Regions from separate parts of the Homo sapiens genome. Here regions 2 and 3 are each reported to be linked to region 1. Evidence: microRNA targets listed by miRTarBase, many of them from high-throughput screens and not tested one by one. Region 1 holds a microRNA gene; each other region holds the end of a gene's coding sequence.

Region 1 (7,195 bases):
GTGCAGGGCAGAAGTCCCGGCGCAGCTGGCTTTCGGGGATGACGCGGCAGTGCCTACTCGCTCTTCCGCGCCTTCAGGCGGAGGCGCCCACGGGGCGCCTGGGTCCCGGGTCCGCCAGTGGCGTCTGCCCAGCGCCCAGCGCTGTTCCCGGGCGGGGGCGGGGGCGGGAGCGGCTGCGGTCCGAGTGCGGCCGGTGCTTGCGAGGTGCCTACCCGCGAGGAGTTTGGCTGGGGTCGGGCTGCGTTTCGCCGCCCTGGTGGGCTCAGGCGGAAGCGCCAGGCTGGGAGGGGGCTGCGGAGAGCGCCGGGGCCCCGGAGCTGGCCCCTCCAGCGTCTTGTCAGGGCTGCGCGGCTGGTTCGAGGCTGCTTCCGTGGCCCGGAGCCGCCCCGCCCAGTCTCTGGGGGAAAGCGGCTCTCAGACCTCCCGTGTGCCTCCACTTCGCGGCCACTCATCCCGGGAACCCCGGCGCACGCGAATGAGACACCGTTCCCCGCCCTCAACTGCCCCATTCCTGTTAATAGCGCTAGTGGCACCCAGGTTCCCAGCCCTTCCCCAAGATCGGCGGCTGGACGGCTTGCCTCTGGCGCCTCACCGGTCAGCGCATCCCAGGACTATGGGCAGTGAGGGTGTCACCCGGGGTCAGGGGTCGCCCGATTCCACGGTGTCCTCCAGGCTGAGCCATTCGTTTGCTCTTCCAACCCGGGCTCCCGGACACCGTGTACAGTAATACCCGCCGGGGGCAGGGGCACTGAGGCCGGCTCTGAGCGATTAGGGCCGAGGGCGGGCGGTGCCGTAATCGACCTCCCCACCCCCACAGGCAAGGTGCGGCGGCGCCTCCCAGGTTTGCGCCCGTCTTCGCAAAGCTCCTGAGGGCGAAAATCCTGCGAGCCAGGTGGCGGATTCTCGGGCCGGGTCACTCAGCTCTACGGGTGCGCATCACCCTCTACCTGTCACCCAGTGAGCCCGACCGATGGGCACCGAGTCGGCGGATCTCTGATCCGAGGCCGAGCCTTCGGAGAAATCTGTCCTAGTGGCCTCATCGTGGCCTGAGCGAACGCAAAGGAACCTGCCCCAAGCCCAGCTCTCAGCCTCGACCCCCACATTCCCCGCGCGGCTCTCGGTTCGGACCTGGGCTCGGAGCGGCAGCCTCCACCACTGCTCGTTTCTTTACCGCTCAAGGCCGCCCCTTCATGCTCCTGCGGGGGAGTTAGCGGGACCTCTGGAGTCGGCCTTACGCAAAGAAGAGAAAATTCTAGGATGCCGGCCTCACTTGTGAGGATTTCGTTTATTCTTTTTCTCCTACCGGGGCCCAGTGGCTCTTGGAGTGAGCTCCGCACCCCAGACACCTGAGTATTTATTTAATGGGTCGGTGGCGGCCTGGGCTTCGGGGAAAGGAGCTCTGGGCCCCTCTCCCAGCACCTCATGGGGACACAGGATGACAGGCGCAGCGTCCAGGGCATGCCCGTTCAAGGGCCCCAGCAGCCTCTAGCCCCTGGGACCTCAGGGGCATTTGATAGAGACTGGAGGGATCAGGACCAGACCGGTTGTGGGTGGCGCGGCTGGGACCCTGGACTCCAGATTCGTTGTGTAGAGGTGGAGAGGAGAGCCAGGAGTCGAGCGGTAGGCTATGTGCTGTCTAAGGACCCCGGAGTACCCATAGCCCAGAGTCCTGCAACACTCACCTCTAACACTGGAAGGGGTTGGGGGCCTGCCCTTTGCATTGGGCACCAGTGCCCAGGAAGGGACACCCCTAGGGGAAAGGGGACTCGAGTTTTAAGAAGGCCCAAGTAGAGTTCAGGAGGGTGGGGCTGAGAGCGACCGAAGGTGGGAGGGGGCGCTTTGTGGAGACCTCCTAGGATGTGTAGGACCCCCACACACCCTGTGAGTCCCTGGCTGCCCAGCCTGGCCTGCAAGTTGCATCTCTTTTGGTCCTCTTCCATTGCCAGGCGCTGACGCCCAGCGGGTGTGGGAGACCTTGTCTTCATCTTCCCACTCCAGAAGCGGATTTCTGTGCCTTTGATCTCAAGGTCAGGGCTGTGTCCTGCAGGGAGGGCAGAAGAGGCTGCTATCCTGACCTGCGCCAAGCCATAGGCCTCTGTTTTCCCTTTTGAGATTCCGAGTGGGGATTCTGCTGCTGATGTCGGAGAGCTCCTCTTACCCGCTTTTCGAGAGAGCTGGGAGACCTTGCTTCCCTAGGGCCCAGGCCCCAGCCTCCCTCCACCAGGATGGAGAGGCCCCAGCGGGCGTGGCACCCCCCAGGCACTGCGGCACTTGGGCTTCCTGTCGCATTTGGGTTAGGAGGGGTGAGGCAGGCGCAGGGGAGGAACCTGGCCCAGCCGACTAGAACTGGAAGTGGAGAGGGATTTGGCTTTGCGAGCTGCTCCCTGTATTCCATCCTATGTCAGTTACAAAGATGAGGAAAACAGACCAAGGAGCTCGACAGAGATGCCACAATTTGAAGGAGCGTACGTGTTTGGCTGCTTTGTTACAGGGCTCTCTCCTCTACCTGGGGTCCCTTTTATTCCTTCCTGGGCTGGGGAGAGCAGAATCCCTGGCTCCATCTGTTCTCCAGCTCTAAGGCCTCTGTGGCTCCTTGGTTGCAAGGTGCTGCGTGTTCCCCTTCCCTAACACCTGCCTCTCCCCATCCTTGGCTGTCCCCAAAAGAAGAATGAAGAATTCTTTTTTTTTTTTTTTTTTTTTTTGTTGTTGTTGAGACAGAATCTCGCTCTGTTGTTGCCCAGGCTGGAGTGCAGTGGTGCGATCTCTGCTCACTGCAACCTCCACCTCCCGGGTTCAAGCGATTCTCCTGCCTCAGCTTCGGGCGCCTGCTACCACGCCTGGCTAATTTTTGTATTTTTAGTAGAGACGGGGGTTTCACCATGCTAACCAGGCTGGTCTCGAGCTTCTAACCTCAGGCGATCCTCCCGTCTCCCAAAGTGCGCTGGGATTACAGGTGTGAGCCACTGCGCCCAGCCAGAAGAAAGAAGAATTCTGCATTCTGTTTAATTATCCCAGGGTGAGGCTTCTTGGGAAAGATTTCTCAAAATAGATCTTCCCACCCCCACCCCCACCCCATGCTGAGCTGTCAGGGTGCTATTAAAATGCAGATTTCCAGGCAGGCTCAAGAATCTACATTTCAACAGGCTCCTTGGGTGATGCTTATGGCTACACCCTAAGCAATGTTCATAACTACCCACCCCATACTCTTTGCTAACACCCTGCCATCACCCCTTCCCCTCCCCACCCAAGGCTGGGAAGTCTGGTCTCTCTTCCTTAGTAGAGTTCAGAAAATTGTAGTAAGGGAAACTGAGGCAGAAGGCTGAGGAGTGACTTCCTGAGATCACCACCTCATCAAGCTGGATTGTCCTCTGGGGAGATAGACCAGCTAGAAGGGCAGAGCCCTGTAGTGGGGGTGTGTGGGAGCAGGACAAAGAGTCCTCGGGAGCAGGAAGGGTGGAGCATTAAGCAGTGTCTAGGGGAGAGCGGATGGCTTTGGCCAAGGTACCCAGATGGAGCTCTGAGGTCCACGGGAGGTAGTTCCTGGGGGTAACATCGCCAAGAGGTCTGCATAGTTTCTGGGCCAGGGCACCTGCTCTGACCCTTCCAGGATATTTTCTAGCCACCCTGCCTTCTGGGCCACCGCTGACCTGGAGTAGGCTGAGACTCTAGTGGCCACTCTGCGGAGGCCCCAGCTTGCCTGCCCTGGGTGCCAGCTCCCCAGAGACCCTCCCTCCCACCCTCTCCCTTCTTCCCGTCCTTCCCCAGGGCCTGTGACACCAGAGGCAGGGCCTCCACAGCAACTTCTCTCTAGGCAGCTGCTCTGGCAACCACTGATGCAACCTTCCCAGCCCCTCCCTCGCTCCTGAGCCTCCGCTTTCCTCCGCAGTCACTCCAGAGCCAGCCAGGAGCCACTCCCTTGCTAGAGTGCATCCGTGCCTCCGGCTCCCTCCAAGCCACCTGGGTGGCTGCAGGACTTCTCTTCTGCCCTCCTTTCCTGGCCTTTTCCTGCCTTGATCCTAGGCCGGCAGCAGAGATGCCCAGCCTGGGCGGTTCACAGTCTGGCCCAATCTGGTCTGGTTTGGGATGGGAGTGGGGGTGAGCAGCAGATTCGGTTTGTTCCTGGGGCTCTGTTTCTGCCACAGGGCAGGCTGGGGGGTGGAGGATAATGGAGACCAAAGTGCCTAGGAGCCTGGGCTGCTGGTGTCTGGGCTCAGAGGCTACGAGAGGCATCTTGGATGTCCCACTGGTCACTGCCCCTGTGGCAGGTTGGGTAGAGAGGAGGCTCTGGCCAGCTGCTTGCCTCTCCGAGCCAGAGTTACTCTGGCAAGGAGATGGATGGTCCTGACCCACTCCCTCCCCAGCCTGGAGGCGCAGTCTGGGTGATGTGGAGGGATGTGGGCCTTCAGGTGGAGATAGGAGACACCTTGGTGTGGTCTTCTCCTCTGCAAGGCCAGAAGGTCAGCTCCTCTCCCGCACTGTCCCTGTCTCCTTGAAGGTCATCTTGGGCTGATGGGGCATGTGGATCTTGTGAAGAGGTGGGATGGGGTGGGGGGTAGAGACCGTAGCAGCCGCTGCTGAGGGCCTGCTGGGGGGCCCCCAAGGGAGTGGGCAGGCTAGGAGCAGGGAACGGGCATCGTGGGCCGCTGGTCTCTCCGCAGGGTCGGCAGGCCGCAGAGTGTGACTCCTGTTCTGTGTATGGCACTGGTAGAATTCACTGTGAACAGTCTCAGTCAGTGAATTACCGAAGGGCCATAAACAGAGCAGAGACAGATCCACGAGGGCCTCCGGAGCACCTTACCCACTTCTGCCTTGAGTGCTCCTAGACGTCGGAAACAGGCTGCTTCCAAGGGTGCAGGGATGCAAGGCCCCTCGTCCAGTGTGTCCCCAGAGAGCCCGCACCAGTGCCATCTGCTTGGCCGATTTTGGCACTAGCACATTTTTGCTTGTGTCTCTCCGCTCTGAGCAATCATGTGCAGTGCCAATATGGGAAAAGCAGGACCCGCAGCTGCGTCCGCCTCCCCTGCATCCTTGTGTCAGGGCCCCAGCCTGCTCCTCCTCAAGGCCTCCTCACCGCCTCCCCAGCCCATCTGGCTCAGCTGCTGTGTGAGGGCCCAGCGCTGGTGGGCAGCCAGATCGCCTTACACTGCCTGGGGCCACGGTAGAGCTGGGAGCCCAGCAATCTGAGCTGGGCCAGCAGATGGGGCCGCCCAGGGCAGAGGTGGGGGAGTCTGAAACCATCTGTAGGGCCATCCTGAATGGTGCCGTGGGTTGGAAAGGCCCAGCCAGGCTCCCAGCACACGCTTGGGGTGAGACCTTGGCTGGCAGCACAGGGCCTGGTCTTTTCTGCTGCAGGTTGTGAAGGGGGCAGCTCCAGGCAGGTGGGCTGCCCTTGAGGTCAGCCTGGGTGTTTCCAGGGGGGCTACCGTCTCTGGAGCTGTAGCCTGCTGTGGAGTGGGTCATCTCCGAACAGCTCCAAGAGGAGGATACTTAGTGGGGCTCGGAGTTGGAGGGCATTTTCAGGCCTGCCCCTAGAAGGTTCTGGAGCAGAGGCCAATGTTCCCCTTCACACACCACACACTGGTAATGTAGCTTCCTGGGTCCCTGGATCTGGGCTATGACTAACTGGCCTATGCTCTCCATCTGGGTGTCAGGTGACATTACATATATAATCCCAACAGTTCCCACCTCAGCCCTGTGGGGCTTGTAATTTTTTAAAATAGTTATCTCATAGATGGGGAACCTGAGGCTTTGAGAGGAAAGGCTTGGCTGAAGAGGTTGGTGAGTGGTAGAGCTGGGTCACTGTGGCTCTTCCGCCACCAGCCACACCTTCCATGGAGGCACCCAGGGCCTGGAGGTGTCTCAGCTCTGAATCTACAGGCCTGGGCTCCCAAGGATGCCCCAGATGGCAGAGACTGAGGCTGGGAGGCCTGGACCTAGTCTGTCAAAGCTGGGGAGAGCCTGGCCAGCCAGGCTGGACCCATGTGAAATCTGGTGGTCAGCAATCAAGCAGGAGACCAGTGGCCGACTTGGGACCAGCTGGGAGCTATCATGCCCCAGGTCACTGGGCCAGCCCCTGATGGGGCTGCTTCTCCCCAGGGAGCCTCAGGCAAGGGTTGGTGGACTTAGCCCAGATCAGTGGGAGTCATTTTAGGTGTCTGAGCCAGGGAGTGCCCGGGTGGGGGATGTGTGTGGTTGAAGCTGGCAGCTGGAGGATGACGGGTCCAGTTGACTGCACAGCAGGAACATGGTGACCAGTGCTGCCTGCCTGGGTGCCCTGGGGACTGCCTTGGGTGGGTTGGGCCTTTTTTTTCTTGTCAGTTAGCTATCACCAAACCGCGAGGAGCCCCCAATAAATTCCCTCTGGGGTGTGGTGCCCGTGTTTCTCTACAGAAGCTCTCCAAGCCCCTGCAGAAAAAAGGAGGGGCTTGTTTATTTCAGGATAGAAGGGGACTTCTGCCCTGGTGAGGTGTCCCTGTAGCTAGGTCTCTCTTCTGATGGCCCCAGCTCTCCCTCTGCCCCTCGGAACCTGGCTGGCCTGTGCCGCACCCTGTCTCTGTGCTCCAGTCCTCCGCCCCGGGTGCTTCCTTAGGGCGTCCTGCTGCAGGTCCCATGGGATAGGAAAGAAGGGATTTCCCGGCCTGAGTGAGAATGAGCCCTGGAGGTGGGGTGGGCACAGAGACCCAGCAAGGGGGGGTGGAAGGCCCCTGGCAGTGACCGGTTCTAGAGCTTTTCCCTGGAGCCTCTGGAGTGTCTGGCCAGGGTTCTGCTCCTTCCTGCCTAGCGGGGAAGGCCGGATGACAGAAGCTGCCCTCAGCCCCTGGGTGGTCTGCAGCTGGGCTCCACCTCCTCACACCTGCCCAGGTGGGCGCCTTTGCTGAGCCCCGAGTGCAGGCACTGGTGTGGGGGCGTGCCTCCACCAGGCTTCAGGCCCGGCTGCTCTGGGGCCCTGCTCCAGCGCTCCAGGGGAGGACCTCAGGCCAAAGCTAGTTTCTAGATCTCCTAATTTACCTAGTTCCGGGCCAGACCTGGGTGGTGAGTTCACCCACAACAGTGACTGTCCCAGAGAGTGGGGGCCACCACAGCTGGCCCTCCTCCCTAAAGACACAATTTCCTACCACCCAGGCTGGGGGCACTTAGGATAGGAGAGGGCCCCTCTTCACCTCCCCACCCTGCAGAACAGGTCCTGGATCCTCCC
Region 2 (7,195 bases), not on the chromosome of region 1:
TTTTGAGACAGTCTTGCTCTTTCTCCAGACTAGATTGCAGTGGCACGATCTCAGCTCAGTGCAGTCTCTGCCTCCCAGGTTCAAATGATTCTCATGACTCAGCTTCCCAAATTAGCTGGGATTACATGGTGCGCCACCATGCCTGGCTAATTTTTTTGTATTTTTATTAGAAATGGGGCTTCGCCATGTTGGCCAGGCTGGTCTCAAACTTCTGACTTCAAGTGATCTACCCACTTCGGCCTCCCAAAGTGCTGGGATTATAGGCGTGAGCCACCGTGCCTGGCCCAAGTTAGAATATTTTGCCGGGGAGGTATACTGTATTAGTCAGCTCAGGCTGCCACAGCAGACTGCCATAGACTAGGCAGCTGGAATAGCAGAAATTCCTTTCTCACAGTTTTGGAGGCTGCAAGTCTGAGATCAAGGCACCAGCAGATTCATGTCTGGTGAAGACCCACTTCCTGGTTTACATGGCCACCTTCTGGCTGTGTCCTAGCATGGAGGAGGGGAAGGCTCTGGTCTCTTTCTCTTCTTATGACACTAATCTCATCATGGGGCCTTACCCCCATGACCTCATCACTTCCCAGGGTCTAGGTATGGGAGCTTGATATACCTGTGTCTGGTTTTGCCAAATAAGTATTGTTTATTTACTTAATATGAGAAAATTCAAGATAAAACAAAGATTGAAGGGATACTGAAAGAAAGGTTGAATTTATCATAGCTTTAGGGAGCAGAAGCCAAAGAGCAAGAGGAGCAGGAAAACAGCATGAGCGGGCAAGGGTCAGCCCTGCTGGCCCAGGTGCGCCCACAGAGCTGGTGGCCTCCTTTCAGAATGAAGTCCCAATGAGAGCAGAGCCCTGGGGAGGAAATTCTTTTGCTTTGAAATGAATTTGTTTTGTTTGGTAAGTAAGGTAGCAAATACCTTTTTGTGATGTGAAGAATGAATTTTGGCAGTTTCGCATTGACTTGTGCATTTGTCTTCTCTCCATGCAGGCGGGCTGGTCCGAGTCTCTGTTTTGGAAGCTCAACCAGTGGCTGATGATTCACATGTTTCACTGCCGCATGGTTCTAACCTACCACATGTGGTGGGTGTGTTTCTGGCACTGGGACGGCCTGGTCAGCAGCCTGTATCTGCCTCATTTGACACTGTTCCTTGTCGGACTGGCTCTGCTTACGCTAATCATTAATCCATATTGGACCCATAAGAAGACTCAGCAGCTTCTCAATCCGGTGGACTGGAACTTCGCACAGCCAGAAGCCAAGAGCAGGCCAGAAGGCAACGGGCAGCTGCTGCGGAAGAAGAGGCCATAGCTGCTCCAGCCGGGGCTCCGGGGCGGCAGCAGAGCTGGCACACCGATTCTGGGAAGCCCCGCGAATGATGGCTTTTGAATTAATGAGGCAGTGAATGTTTTGTGTTTACTTCTAAGGGAAATACTAACTTTCTTTCGCATTAGTATTAATTTTGAAGTAGCTACAAAGTATTTTTAAGAAATTATAATTTTATGACTGTCTGGCAGGCTCTGTCAGTTTAGCCGCGCCGGACCGTGTCAAGCATCTAGGAGAGGAGTCCATGGTGTCCAGGCATCGGGGCGTCACACCTGTTGAGGAGTGGGGTGGCTTTGAATGCTGGAAATGGCTTCATAGTGAAGTGCCTCCCACAGGGCGGGTGGGTCAGCGTTGACTCTTTCCAGCTGCACACTCATATGCCGTGTGTCTTATTCAGAAGTCACATTCTTTTCAGTTGGAGAGAATTGGGCTAAGATAGAAAATAACATGATTTGTTCCTTATTAAAGCTTCCCAGCGTATGAAATTCTAAGCTGGGTGGGGTGGCTCACACCCGACGTAATCCCAGCACGTTGGGAGGCCGAGGCAGGTGGATCACTTGAGGCCAGGAGTTCGAGACCAGCCTGGTCAAGATGGTGAAACCCCATCTCTACTAAAATTACAAAAATTAGCCGGGTGTCGTGGCACACACCTGTAATCCCAGCTATTTGGGAGGCCAAGGCAGGAGAATTGCCTGAACCCGGGAGGCGGAGGTTGCAGTGAGCTGAGATCGCACCACTGCACTCCAGCACTCCAGCCTGGGTGACAGAGCAAGACTCTCTCTCAAAAAAAAAAAAAAAAAAAAATTCTAGACCGAAGTGTACGGCAGTGCCATCTGGTGGCAAGTGGTACAAAGACAACGCTGAGGGGTAGTGACTCCTGTAGCAGCAGAGACGCCTTGGAGTTTAACCCCCACCAACCAGAGCGTGGGCTGGTAAAGATGAAATCTTGCAAGTTTTTTTTTTTTTTAAATCATGGTACCTGTTTTAAAATGAGAAGTTATTATTCATACTGTGTTGCTCATTTGACAAAATAAGGTAAGGATTTCATAATCAGGTTGTCTGGGTTTCAGAGCTGTTTTTAATTGACTGAGTTACCTACAGGCACCCAATCTAGACCCTAATTCTGTGGTTGGTGTTCCTCTGTAGATTTCAAGACAAGTAGTGATGTCATTTTCTCCCTGAGCTGTAGGGTGGACCTGGACCCCTCAGAGATGCTCGACTGCAGGGTCCTGGGGTCCCTAGAGTGGTCCTGCAGCAGCCCCTGGCAATGAGCTGCCTGATGATGAGTCCCAAGGTACATTGTTCTACTGTTTTATACCCAGGTAGAAGTTACACAGCAATTTAGCAATGTTGTTAACAGACATACAGAATTGTGTGTGTGTGTGTGTGTGTGTGTGTGAGTGTTTTGATATAAACGTGCAATTAAAATTCAAAGTTTATTTTTTATCACAAGCACCTTTGAAATGTACGTGGAAAACGTCGGCTGCTCGTGAGAATCATGTGTGACTTACGTTCCTTATGTTTTATGGAACTCTCGGAACAGTGTTTTGTTTTTGTTTAGTTTTTGTTTTCGTTTTTTTGAGACGGAGCCTGGCTTTGGCTCCCAGGCTGGAGTCCAGTGGTGTGATCTCGGCTCACTGCAACCTCCACCTCCCGGGTTCCAGGGATTCTCCTGCCTCACCCTTTCAAGTAGCTGGGATTACAGGTACCTCTACCATGCCTGGCTGATTTTTTGTATTTTTAGTAGAGACAGGGTTTCACCATGTTGGCCAGGCTGGTCTCTGACTCCTGACTAAAAGTGATCTGCCCACCTCGGCCTCCCAAAGTTCTGGGATTACGGGCGTGAGCCACTTCACCCGGCCCGGAGCGGTGTATTTTGATTGCTGGTGCTTTAACTATATTGACCAAGGTGTATAGTAACCTATTTATCACATTTTACGAAGCAATTTTAATCTTAAACACATCCAGCAAATGGTGTCCCTGCTGAAACTTTTAACTGGAAACCTCACACCTGGCAGGCAGCACTCTCTGCAGCCGTGCCCTTGTGGAGTCAGCAGGAGCTGGTGTTTTTCAGCCAGACAGAGGCATAATAAAGTGACTGATGTTTACAGAACCCAAATGATGTCTTCCTCTCTCTCAAAATAAACTAACCTATTCATATTGCTGTGAATGCTTTATCTTGGAGATAGAAAATATAATGATAAATTCATCATGTGTTCAGAATTCGATTTGGAGTTGGAAGTGGACAGCCTAATTTTTATCTCACCTCCACTAGGACTTTGACCTTCCCAGGGGTCCACACTTTACCTCCTGTATCTTCATACGCGTGTGTGGATGCATAGAGATGGAGGTGCTGTAGAGAAGCACAGGCTCACCCGCTCCGTCCAGTGTCACCCACACATTGGTCCGGGGACCCCTCAGTGCAGAGCCTGAAGTTGGGGGTTTAGGGGTGGAAAAGGCTTCGTGAAATGTTAATGATGCGTACACCTTCCAGATGGCACAGCACTTTCCCATGGTCCTCACTGGCCTCAGTCTCCCTGACCGGCAGTGTGAGGGGATGTAGCTATAGTGGAGCATGGTACAAGCGACATTCATGAGCTCTGACTTCTTGGTGCCAGGTTGGTGTGAGCCTGGGCCCGGCCCACTCAGCGGCCCACATTGGCCAGCATTCAGCTGCACGTGTGTGCTGCGTGCTTCACATCCTCTATTGAGAGTTACAGCAAGTGTTAAACGAGGTGAGTTCACATAACAGGAATTCTGGAACTGCTTGAAAACTAGGACGATTGGGCAATATCGGCCTTAACTCCACCTGATGGCAGGTGACCCGGATAGAAAATGGCCCTGCGTTTAGCCAGGATGTGGCTCTCCAGCTTGGCTTCAGTGTGATCACTTGTCAGTGCGCTTTCTCTTTCGATAGTGAAATCCTTCTCTATACCTATGTTTTGTTTTGTTTCTTAAGTTGGGAAACAGAATGGGCCAGGGAGGTTGAGTGACTGAAGACCAAGGGTTGGTGCAGCCTCCTCGCCGCGCTGCGGGGGCTGGGCCGCACAGGCTTCTGCCCTTCTCGGTGTCCAGGCTCCTTGGGTGATGCTGGAGTTGTCATGGCCGCAGTTCAGTGTGAGATTTTTTACCAGGTATTGCGCTTAAGGGACATGATTTTCCATTTTCTTCGCCCGGACAACTTGAATGAAATGGGCACTGTTGATTCCACTTCTGTCGAGGAGCTTCGGGGCTCAGAGAGGTGATGACGTGCCCAAGGTGACGCAACTCGTGAACAGCCGTGCCTGCCTTGGGCGCAGCCTCCGGCGCCAGAGCTGGGCTCTTCAACACGGCATTTAGCGCAGAAAGTCGTGGTTCAGGCAGTATGGGCCGCTGTGACAAAACACCTAAGACTGGGTAGTTTATAAAGAACAGACATTCAGGCCAGGCACGGTGACTCACGCCTGTAATCCCAGCACTTTGGGAGGCCGAGGCGGGTGGATCATTTGAGGTCAGGAGTTTGAAACCAGCCTGGCCAACATGGTGAAACCCCATCTCTACTAAAAAAACAAAACTAGCTGGGGGTGGTGGTGCATGCCTGTGGTCCCAGCTACTTGGGAGGCTAAGGTAGAAGAATTGCTTGAACCTGGGAGGCAGAGATTGCAGTGAGCCGAGATCACGCCATTGCACTCCAGCCTGGGTGACACAGTGAGACTCCATCTCAAAAAAAAAAAAAGAACGGACATCATTTCTCACAGTTCTGGAGGCTGGAAGTCCAAGATAAAGGTGTGGGCTGATTAGTTTCTGCTGGGAACACTGCATCCTCACGTGGTGGAGGGGATGGAAGGTCAACAGGCCTCAGCTAGTTCTCCGCTGCCTTTTTATGAGGCATTAAGCCATTTGCAAGAGTAGGGGGCCCCACCTCTTAATACCACCGCAATGACAATTACAATGTCATGTGAATTCTGGAGGGGACACGGTCACACTGCAGCATCAGCACCCGGTGAATGTGGTTCTCTTCCCATGTCCGAATTTTGTGAGCTCCACACGGGCAGGGTTGCATCTGTTTTATTCTCTGATTGATTCTAAGCCCCATGTCCCTGGCACAGGATGGCTGCTTGGCAGTAGGGAGTGGATGAACCAGTAGTACCCAGGGCTGCCAGGCAGGGCCCTGCAGGGGACAGACCCAAGGGCTGATATGGGGACACCTGCTGAGGGGGGAATTTACCACGGTAAGGGCAGGGCTGGGAGGCTGGGCAGCCAGTTTCACCCTCGCACAGGCTGCCTGGCAAGACCAGCGGCTGGAGGTGATGTCCTCAGTAGAGAACGGTGGCCACTGGAAACGTGTGGCCAGAAGGGGAAACGCTCGGGCCTCTGGTGGGGGCCAGCCTGGGGTGGGGTCGGCCAGGGTCAGCTGCCTTTCCTTCATGCTGGGGAGGAGATGTTGTGTGCATGTGAGAAAGCATTTGATAGCATGCCAAAAGTTTCCTCCATTATGTGCGTGTCAAGTGTTTGACCAGGTCAGAACTCTTGTTCTATGCGAATGTGCTCACGCAGACAGAAGCGGAGGGGCTCCGTCGCTCTGCCCTCACGCCGCTGAACCGCGAGGGTCTCCCGCTCCTCAGGCTTGCGGCTCGGCCGCGAAGTGTGTCAGGTGTGCATCCTGGGTGCTCCTTTGTGCTCTGTCCTACGGTGACACAGGCGGCGTGGGGTTAGACAGGTACCGGTCAGACTACGGTGACACAGGCGGCGTGCGGTTAGACAGGTACCGGTCAGATTACGGTGGCACAGGCGGCGTGGGGTTAGACAGGTACCGGTCAGATTACGGTGGCACAGGCGGCGTGGGGTTAGACAGGTACCGGTCAGATTACGGTGGCACAGGCGGCGTGGGGTTAGACAGGTACCGGTCAGATTACGGTGGCACAGGCGGCGTGGGGTTAGACAGGTACCGGTCAGATTACGGTGGCACAGGCAGCGTGGGGTTAGACAGGTACCGGTCAGATTACGGTGGCACAGGCGGCGTGGGGTTAGACAGGTACCGGTCAGATTACGGTGGCACAGGCGGCGTGGGGTTAGACAGGTACCGGTCAGATTACGGTGACACAGGCGGCGTGGGGTTAGACAGGTACCGGTCAGATTACGGTGGCACAGGCTGCGTGGGGTTAGACAGGTACCGGTCAGATTACGGTGGCACAGGCGGCGTGGGGTTAGACAGGTACTGGTCAGATGCACGGGCTCCCTAAACCCCTGCTGTGGCTTCGGCAGTAAAGACAGGACGCACCCATGTCACAAGAGGAGCACAGGCAGGGGTGTTGGTGTTGGGGCAGCCCTCAGGGTCTCCAGACCCCAGCCCCACTCACACAGCAGCCTAGGAAGGAAGGGCAGAGTCCCAGGTGTCAGCTGGTGGGTCTCCCAGGAGCTGCCCCTCCCTGGAAGTCACAGGACAGGAATGACAGATCAGGGAACTGCAGGAAGCTGCCACCTCTGGGGTCAGAATATGCCCAGCCTGCGGGGGCTCTCTATCGGGGTCTTCGAGAGCCAGACAGCCTGCCTTGTGCTGCATACCTGGCTTTGCTCTGTGCAGAACCCAGCACACGTGATTTTGTGTGACATGCCAGCAGCCTGGCTCCCAGGACAGGAGGCCTGCCCTGGGGGAGGGGCTGCAGGAGGAGGGGGGGCAGGCACCCATGAGTCTGTCCAGCCTTGTCACAGATGCATCGCCCACCCTGCGGTCCTGATTTCAGCTCACCTCAGAGTAAATCAGAATAAACTGCACCCAGACTTTCACGAATGCATGTTGACGCTTTCAGTTCACCCCTTTCTTTGCTAACTTTCTTCCTATTTTCTTCTAATGCGAGAGCTTATTAATTCCATATTTATCATTTTGAATAAC
Region 3 (7,195 bases), not on the chromosome of region 1:
ATGTCCCTTGAGATGCTCTTTTGAGGGATACTGAAACATTAATGGCTTTCCTGGCACAGAGTGTGTGGTAGACGATCTCATGACCTTTACATCTTGCTTATTCCCCACTCCTATCATGTGGAACAGGGAGTAAGCCCACTGAAAAGCCATCAGAAAAAGCAAAGTAGAGATAGGAATTCAGTTTAGCTTTTACTAACTACATAATAATGCTGACCCTCTGTTGTTAGAGACTTTAGTAGCCAAGTTCAACAATGAAAATATGTTCCTCATTTTTTAATGGTGGTTCCTTGTTGGGGAAGAAGGATGTCCCTGCCTATTGTTCAAGATTGTCTGGTAAAGGATAGAACAGCCACCTCTACTTTTACAAGGAAGTTTTTTTTAACAAGAATAGTATGCTATTTTCTTTCACTGTGCGTTAGGAGCTACCTGATTCCTATTCTGATTAAACATTTAATTTCAAAATAATATTTTAATAGATTATTTTTCCTTTTGTTTATTTAGGTCACAGTTTTGAAATCCAACAAAGGAATTCTGAGTTTCTAAAATAGTAGTTTGTGGGTCACATTTAAATTTGTGGTAAGGCTGTTGGTACTGCTTTGGTTCATATTCTTGTTTAGAAATTCAGGACTAATTAAAATGTGATCCTCTTTGAGGCTGGGAATTAGGAAGTCACTAAGGTACTTATAATGTATATCAGTGTTTTTAAGTATAATTACAGAGCAGTCAGACTACAAATGTGTAATAAGGGTAATTAGTACCTTGCCTGAGTTAATTGATTAAAACTGTGATGTCTGGTCCTAAAGTAATTGGAACTCTGTCATCTGTGAAGGTCACGCCTGTTTTCTTATATGTACAAGGTAATGAAAATGTAATAAAGATATACTGAAGCCTCAAGAATTAATAATTGCAGTAGATCCGGCTGAATTATAGACATTTAAGTACACTACTGTTGCATTGTTAATGTTGGAAGTAGGGATTTGAAACATTTAAAACATTTTGCCAAGTAGAGAGCTTGTTCGCCTGGTTTAAATGGCCAGATAATTTGTCCTTCTATTGGCTTAAGTGCTGAGAATGTGTATTTCCTTAGGAAGGTTTAATTACCAAAATTCAGTTAGCTTCACGTTGATCTATCAAGTTTCAAAAACAGTAGACTGTTCATTGGTTCTCTTACCATATGACCTATTGCATTTACCTAAGCACTTATGTTTCTTAGCATGAAAGTGCTCTCTTAAGAGACCATTTGTTATTACTCAGCCAGGGTTCTAATTGGGATGGCAATGAGAAGAACCAAAGGTGGGGATGTTGGGTGTCATGTTGGGTGTCATTTATTACATTAAGGCTGGAGGCCTAAGTCATAGGGCTGAAATAATGGCTTCTGTTGTGCTTCCATTATGTGCCCTGCTCTTTCATTGTCCTACACTGCCACCTTTGGAATTCGTCTCTTATTCCCTGTGCCTAAGAGCAACTAGTGCATTTCAACATAGGTCTGAGAGCATCCTGGTTAAGAGGAACCTGGCTTCTTTACATCTGTGTTCACCTTATTTGTAAAACTAGGGTATAATTGTACTTTCTTAATAGGTTTTTGTGGTTATTCTGACAAATAACATAATGGCACAGAATGCATTTAGCATGCTGCTTACACATACTACGTGTTCAATAAATATTAGCTATTCTCCTTAGAGGCAAGTCCCAGGTTTAATATTTTAAAACTTTTTGTATGTATCTTAAAACTTCCAGGCCAAGGGGATGAAGTCCTTTGTTACACAATTTTTGAGTACCTAAGTATAGTCATTAAACATACATGGTCTCTACTTTTGAAGAAATAAAGGTCTTATATAAACAAATAATCACAGCTACTAGTGCCCTCAGCTATCTGGGTTTTTCAAGACCTCCCAGGGCCAACTTATGGCATTTAGTCATAGCTCCACAGTATGTCTTTCTGAAGTTTTTAGAAAATCCTTGTAGGTAATAACTCCCCTACCTCCCTCAGCACAGCTGGGACACACTATTGAATGAAACTCATCAAGTCCCTAATTCTTTACCACCCCACTCCTCACCACATGGAATTCTAGTGAAAGAAACTTTTACTTCATGCTGTTCAAAAGGGCACTTTTCACAAAGTGTAATAGAGACTGTACAATTTAAGCTTTATGCTCCACGGCCTAAGGATTTACCATATTAATCTATGCAGATTTACTAAAGGGAATAAGAGTGAAACTGATATAACTAAGATAGTTACCTCTCACTTTCCCTCCCAGCTTTCCTCCTCTGGAAGGATTCATTTCCAGATTCAAAAGTTTATTTCTAAATGGCTGTTTCTCCTGTCATAGCCTGCAGTGTACATCAGAATAAAGAACCGTGCCCAGGGTGAATATCTGACAGTCACTGGAAGTCTAGCAGACACCAGGGCAACATCTGTGTGCATTTCTCCCTATAGTGGAAAGAATACTCAGATCTGGTACTACTGCCGAGGACTCTTTAAATCCAAGGTAAGCAATCCCACTGATACAGTATGCCACTTTCTGGTCTGTTTTTTATTTTGAAAACTAGAATCCTGTCAAATCAACTGGCATGATAAAACAATGCAACTTCTTAGAAACAGGTGTTGATTATAAAAATACTGCCATATATTACTAAAACATTTATATAAAATTAACTTAATTTTTTGAACAAGAAAATCCAGTTTCAATTTTTAAGTAAACACAAAGGTTATCACATATTATGGATATACCTAAGTGATTTTTTACAACCAATGGTATAAGTCACCAGATCTAAGTTGGACAATGTGCTTTTGTAAGATGTTCCTTACTTGATGGCCCAGATAAAATCAGCCATCTCTGTGATTCTAAATATGTTGAAACCTTTCATTTTCAAAGTATACAAAGAAGCAGTAGAAGAAGAAAGCTGTTATTGGAAGAAGCTTAGAAAATAAAATTTAGGGTTCTTTTCTATGACCCTTCCGTTATGTTTAATGCATTGGGAATAGAACACTACTTTAAAAACATTCAAACTGTGTTTTATTGTATCACCAATGGATTATCTACTTTTTCTCATGCTTCAAAAATGAAAAACTTTTAAAAGTAATTATTGTCTGGATATCTTTAGCCCATCATGCAATGTTTTCATAAGAAAACCAAGCTCAACATAATACGTTTTAAGCAAACAGGGATTTAACATTTAATTCCAATTCACCAAATCTTTATTGAACATCTGTTGTCAGATGTAGACATCCTATTAAAAACAAGTACCTCTATTTCAGTTGGTTTATTTCTGTACCATCTCCTACCCACAGCCGTAAAGAAGACATTAAAAAAGGCTTACTGAAATTATACTATATAGTATTTTTTTAGATAAGACACACACACACTTCATGTCTATGACTTGTTTACCTAAGATAAAAGGGACCTAATTCAACTTACTTTAGCAAACATACTACTGCCAATTAATCATTTCTTAACCCTTTTAGGCCAGTGATACATGTCTTGATGTGATTGGTGGCCGGGACACACCTGGAGCTAAAGTAGCTCTATGGACTGAACATGGGCAATTCAGGCAGAAGTGGAGACTGAATAAAAATGGAACTATCAGCTCTTATCTCAGTGATCAACTTGTCCTTGATGTTAAAGGTGGGCCTTTGATGATACCCAATGTTGTGTCCCTGGATATTAGTTTCAGTTCCAAATCTCCTCATTTTGGGTAAAGGACATCCTTATGTATAAGAGAAATGTTAAGTCATTTAAAATTATGCTTGAAGAAAATTAAGATAGGCAGTTTTACAAACAAAACAATTAGCAGAAAAAGCCAAACAACAAAGCTTAGGGTTTTTGTTCATTAGTACAGTTGTAAAACTTTCATTTGCTACGTGAACTCAGAACAGTTCTAAATTTCAAGCACCATAAACCATGAAATGAATGTCATCTGTTTCTTAGAAACATCTCTAGCTTTTTGCCAGGAATTGCCATGGTCCTTAAAAACCCTCAGGTAGAATTTATGGTAGGTATCAATTAACCTTGTTTTTGAATTCAGCAAGGTCAGGGCCAATATTATTCATGGCTGTTGCTTTAATTGGGTTAGTCACAGTTTTGTTGGTGTAGAAACAAAAACACAGTACCTGACATTCAGCCAGAGTTCTCTCAAGAGCACTTTGTTCTAAAGAATCACATTAAGGCACGCCACTTATACAATCATGTATTATACCTTTTAGTATTTCAATTTGAGTCATAATAAGGTCCAATTTGAGGTGAATAATGGCTAAGCCTGTTCAAACTCAGCTTCCCATTTCAGACTTCTTTGTAAATGACACATTCATCCACCGAAATGGTGAGCTGAACAGAAGCTTGTGAAAATTGTGAAATTGCTAAGCACCTGCCTGAACAAATAATCTTTTCTTTTGGAATTTCTATTTTAGGAGGAAATTATTGTGACAAGACTCATGTAATTGTAAATCAGCCCCTGGAGGGAGAAGAAACACAGAAATGGGACATTGAAATATTGTGAGAGAATCAACATCCCTAGAAAGATCCCTAGAAAGAGCAAAGAAGGAAACACATCTGTCATTGTCTTGTGGACGTGGAAAGGAAGCTACTGTCCTCACACTCCTGGATCACTGAGCAGAATGAACATTTTCTCCAGCCTCTGAGACTATCGCTCTTAACCATGGAAAAGCTCAAAATATTCTTGCCATTACTCAGTGTTCCTATAAAGAAAATATTATGATATCTTGGAAAGGTTCTATTCCTGATCTCCAGCTGTGGTGAGCAAGTTTCCTGAAGTGTTTATTTTCTCTCATATCCACCAAACGTGAATCCTGTTCCTGATGGCCCGTTATTGGACACTGGTGATGCTATTATCCTGTATTATTTATTAATATCCTACCTAGATGCTTGTATGAGTACAAAGCATAAAGAAACAGATTTCTATAGGTCAAGTCATACTTTTGCAAACAGATGAGTAATTTTTTAGCAACACCTGAAAATATACTAAACTTTCCTAGATAAACTTTAAGGTTTCTATACTGAGGCTTTTATAATGAACGCACCTCGTTAAGTATTTATACTTGTAACTAACCCCAGGCAGGGACCTCAGCTTTGTTAGGAATAAGGCACAAGAAGTATTTTCTGTAGCTATTGTTTCCTCAGTCCTTCAAACTAAAAAAGTACAAATAAATAACCTATGGCCAAACTTGCACTGTTACGTGTTAACCAAGACATCCCTTTAGGTGACAAGACTCTATAACAGTGGTTACCTGTCTCCATGTTGACACTTCATCCTAGATTTAAGGAGAGGCATCAATTTTTTTTTTTTTTTGCCTCAAGAGAAATTTCAAATATCCAAATTAAAACACAGTAGCATTTGAACCTTGACCTTACCATCTCTTTAAGTAAACGTGGAGTTGATTTCTCTACTAAATAACAGAAACCTCAGTTTTTCACTCCCATTGTAAGTAACTTTTATTTAAGTAAGTAAAATCAGGTAGGAAATCACCTTTGACTTAGCTTCCAGTAGTCATTACCACCTTTTACTGCACAATTCACAAGCATGTTTTCCTGGTGAATTGGACTGAAAATTACATTTTGACAACTTTTTTTCCTTTTATCCCCAACTTTTGCCAGAAAGCAGAAAAATGCTCTATTTTTATAAAGAAAGATTAAATTCTCCAATGATATTTTAAAAAATATCAACCTACATGCACTTTAGAATGTAAAATAACAATGACTATTTTAAACTCGAAGACCCACTATTTTGAGTATTTTTTATAGACTTTAAATACTGGGTTTTTTTCCTCCTTCAATCTCAGGCTTTTCTCCATCTTTTAAGCAGCCTCTGTAACTCCCTTTTGTCCATAGGTGTTGCGTGCCTCTCATCTGTGGGGAAGTATTATTTAATAAAATTTATGTTACAGGATAACTTTATTTTAATGGGCATGGGCTTGTCTATACACAAAGGTATGTATATTTTCATTATAAAAAACCAGTTTAAAATTTTTTCTTATTTTAATTGTTTGAAATTTTTCTAGAGCCAAAGAAGCTCTTTAAAGAAGTTGTTTCTTCCAAAGAACAAAGCCAGGTTAATGACATTCAATTCTAAATGATACATTGGAATTGTGCCTTTTCTACCACACTGGATTAAATAAACTTGTCAAAATATGGTTTTGTCATTTTCTGAGACACTTGGTAATTTGCTGTTCTTTCTTTCATGTGCCCGTTAGTACATTTGGCCAACTGACCACCTGTAACAGGGAGGTCTCATGTTTGTTAGTAGATACGCAGGTAAGGAAACTTGAATTCATCCTCTCCTCGGCTCAGGTCTTTGCTTTTCTTTTAATATATGCATATAAAATAGTAGGCATTTGATTCTGCAAAGGCACTAGACTACTTGAATTAAACATTCTGTCCAGAGGGATAATACCAGGCTTTCCTTTTCCTCATCTGTAGTAAGTTTCAGGTCCTTGACAGAAATAGCTGGACTATTCCAAATTTGCTTCAGTGCATCCAAATGTGACAAAGGGAAGCGAAGTCCATGAAACTGAAAGGATAAATTTATTTGTCAAAATATATGTATACTACTTATGTCATTGAAGTAGCATTTTCCTGTAAATTTATTCTCCATACATCATTATTTTTGATACCCCTCATGAGTATTTTAGACACACTACAATTAGATAACATAAAAGATGCCAACTTCTATATAAAAGGCATCCTAATTTATGTAGTAAGTGATATTAGTAATTTGAAATGTTTTACATTATACCATTCCTATAAGGCTACAGGTCCCAGCTAGTATGTCTTAAAACTGGTGTGCATGTATCACAGAAATGTCTGACTTAATCATCCCCATGCAGGAGCTCTGTGAGTAGTGCAAAATGGTTAAGTCCACAGTGCAGCCATAAAAAGCATATTACCTGTAAATCAAAAATAATCAATTCTTCCCAACCACCACCCAAGTCACAGGATAGGCATTTGTTTTCAGTTGAAACAAACCTCTGTTTCCTCCTCATTTCCCATCATGTGTGTCTCTCTACTATTCTTTAAGGAATGATAGATGTACACCATCTTTTCTTGAGCTTCATCCTTTGGGGAAAAAATAAATGCATTAGGCCATCAACAACACAACACTGAAGGTGTCAGTACTAGGAAGGTTTTCCAATAGGTCAACACCAAAAAAAATTTCAAAAGCCTTGGTGCTCAAGTGAAAT

Evidence for each region. The annotated mature microRNA hsa-miR-183-3p reads GUGAAUUACCGAAGGGCCAUAA and lies in region 1 at 4,734-4,755, shown strand. An mRNA with a match to its seed (bases 2 to 7 or 8) in the 3' UTR can be bound and repressed. Matches are read on the target gene's strand: a 7mer-m8 pairs with bases 2 to 8, a 7mer-A1 pairs with bases 2 to 7 and ends in A, and an 8mer does both.
Region 2: miRTarBase lists CLN8 as a target of hsa-miR-183-3p. Seed matches in the 3' UTR shown: 7mer-A1 at 2,750-2,756.
Region 3: the mRNA of RIOX2 is a reported target of hsa-miR-183-3p. Seed matches in the 3' UTR shown: 7mer-A1 at 6,280-6,286 and 7mer-A1 at 4,017-4,023.

The regions. Positions count from the first base shown.
Region 1 is chr7:129,772,488-129,779,682 of GRCh38, reverse strand. It overlaps MIR183 (microRNA 183), which reads left to right and starts at 4,669; the gene lies at 4,669-4,778. MIR96 (microRNA 96) reads left to right here and starts at 4,914; the gene lies at 4,914-4,991. RefSeq lists a silencer at 71-200 and enhancers at 1,899-2,745, 5,589-6,450.
Region 2 is chr8:1,779,260-1,786,454 of GRCh38, forward strand. It overlaps CLN8 (CLN8 transmembrane ER and ERGIC protein), which reads left to right. Exons shown (of 3, transcript NM_018941.4): 3 at 991-7,195. The coding sequence ends at 1,308. Among named protein-coding and RNA genes, the nearest start is that of MIR3674, 18 kb to the right of the region's middle. RefSeq lists an enhancer at 4,454-4,953 and a silencer at 6,027-6,149.
Region 3 is chr3:97,938,818-97,946,012 of GRCh38, forward strand. It overlaps RIOX2 (ribosomal oxygenase 2), which reads right to left. Exons shown (of 10, transcript NM_153182.4): 9 at 6,981-7,070; 10 at 3,001-6,525. The coding sequence ends at 6,367. It overlaps CRYBG3 (crystallin beta-gamma domain containing 3), which reads left to right. Exons shown (of 22, transcript NM_153605.4): 20 at 2,331-2,489; 21 at 3,467-3,626; 22 at 4,409-6,167. The coding sequence ends at 4,497. Among named protein-coding and RNA genes, the nearest start is that of RIOX2, 30 kb to the right of the region's middle.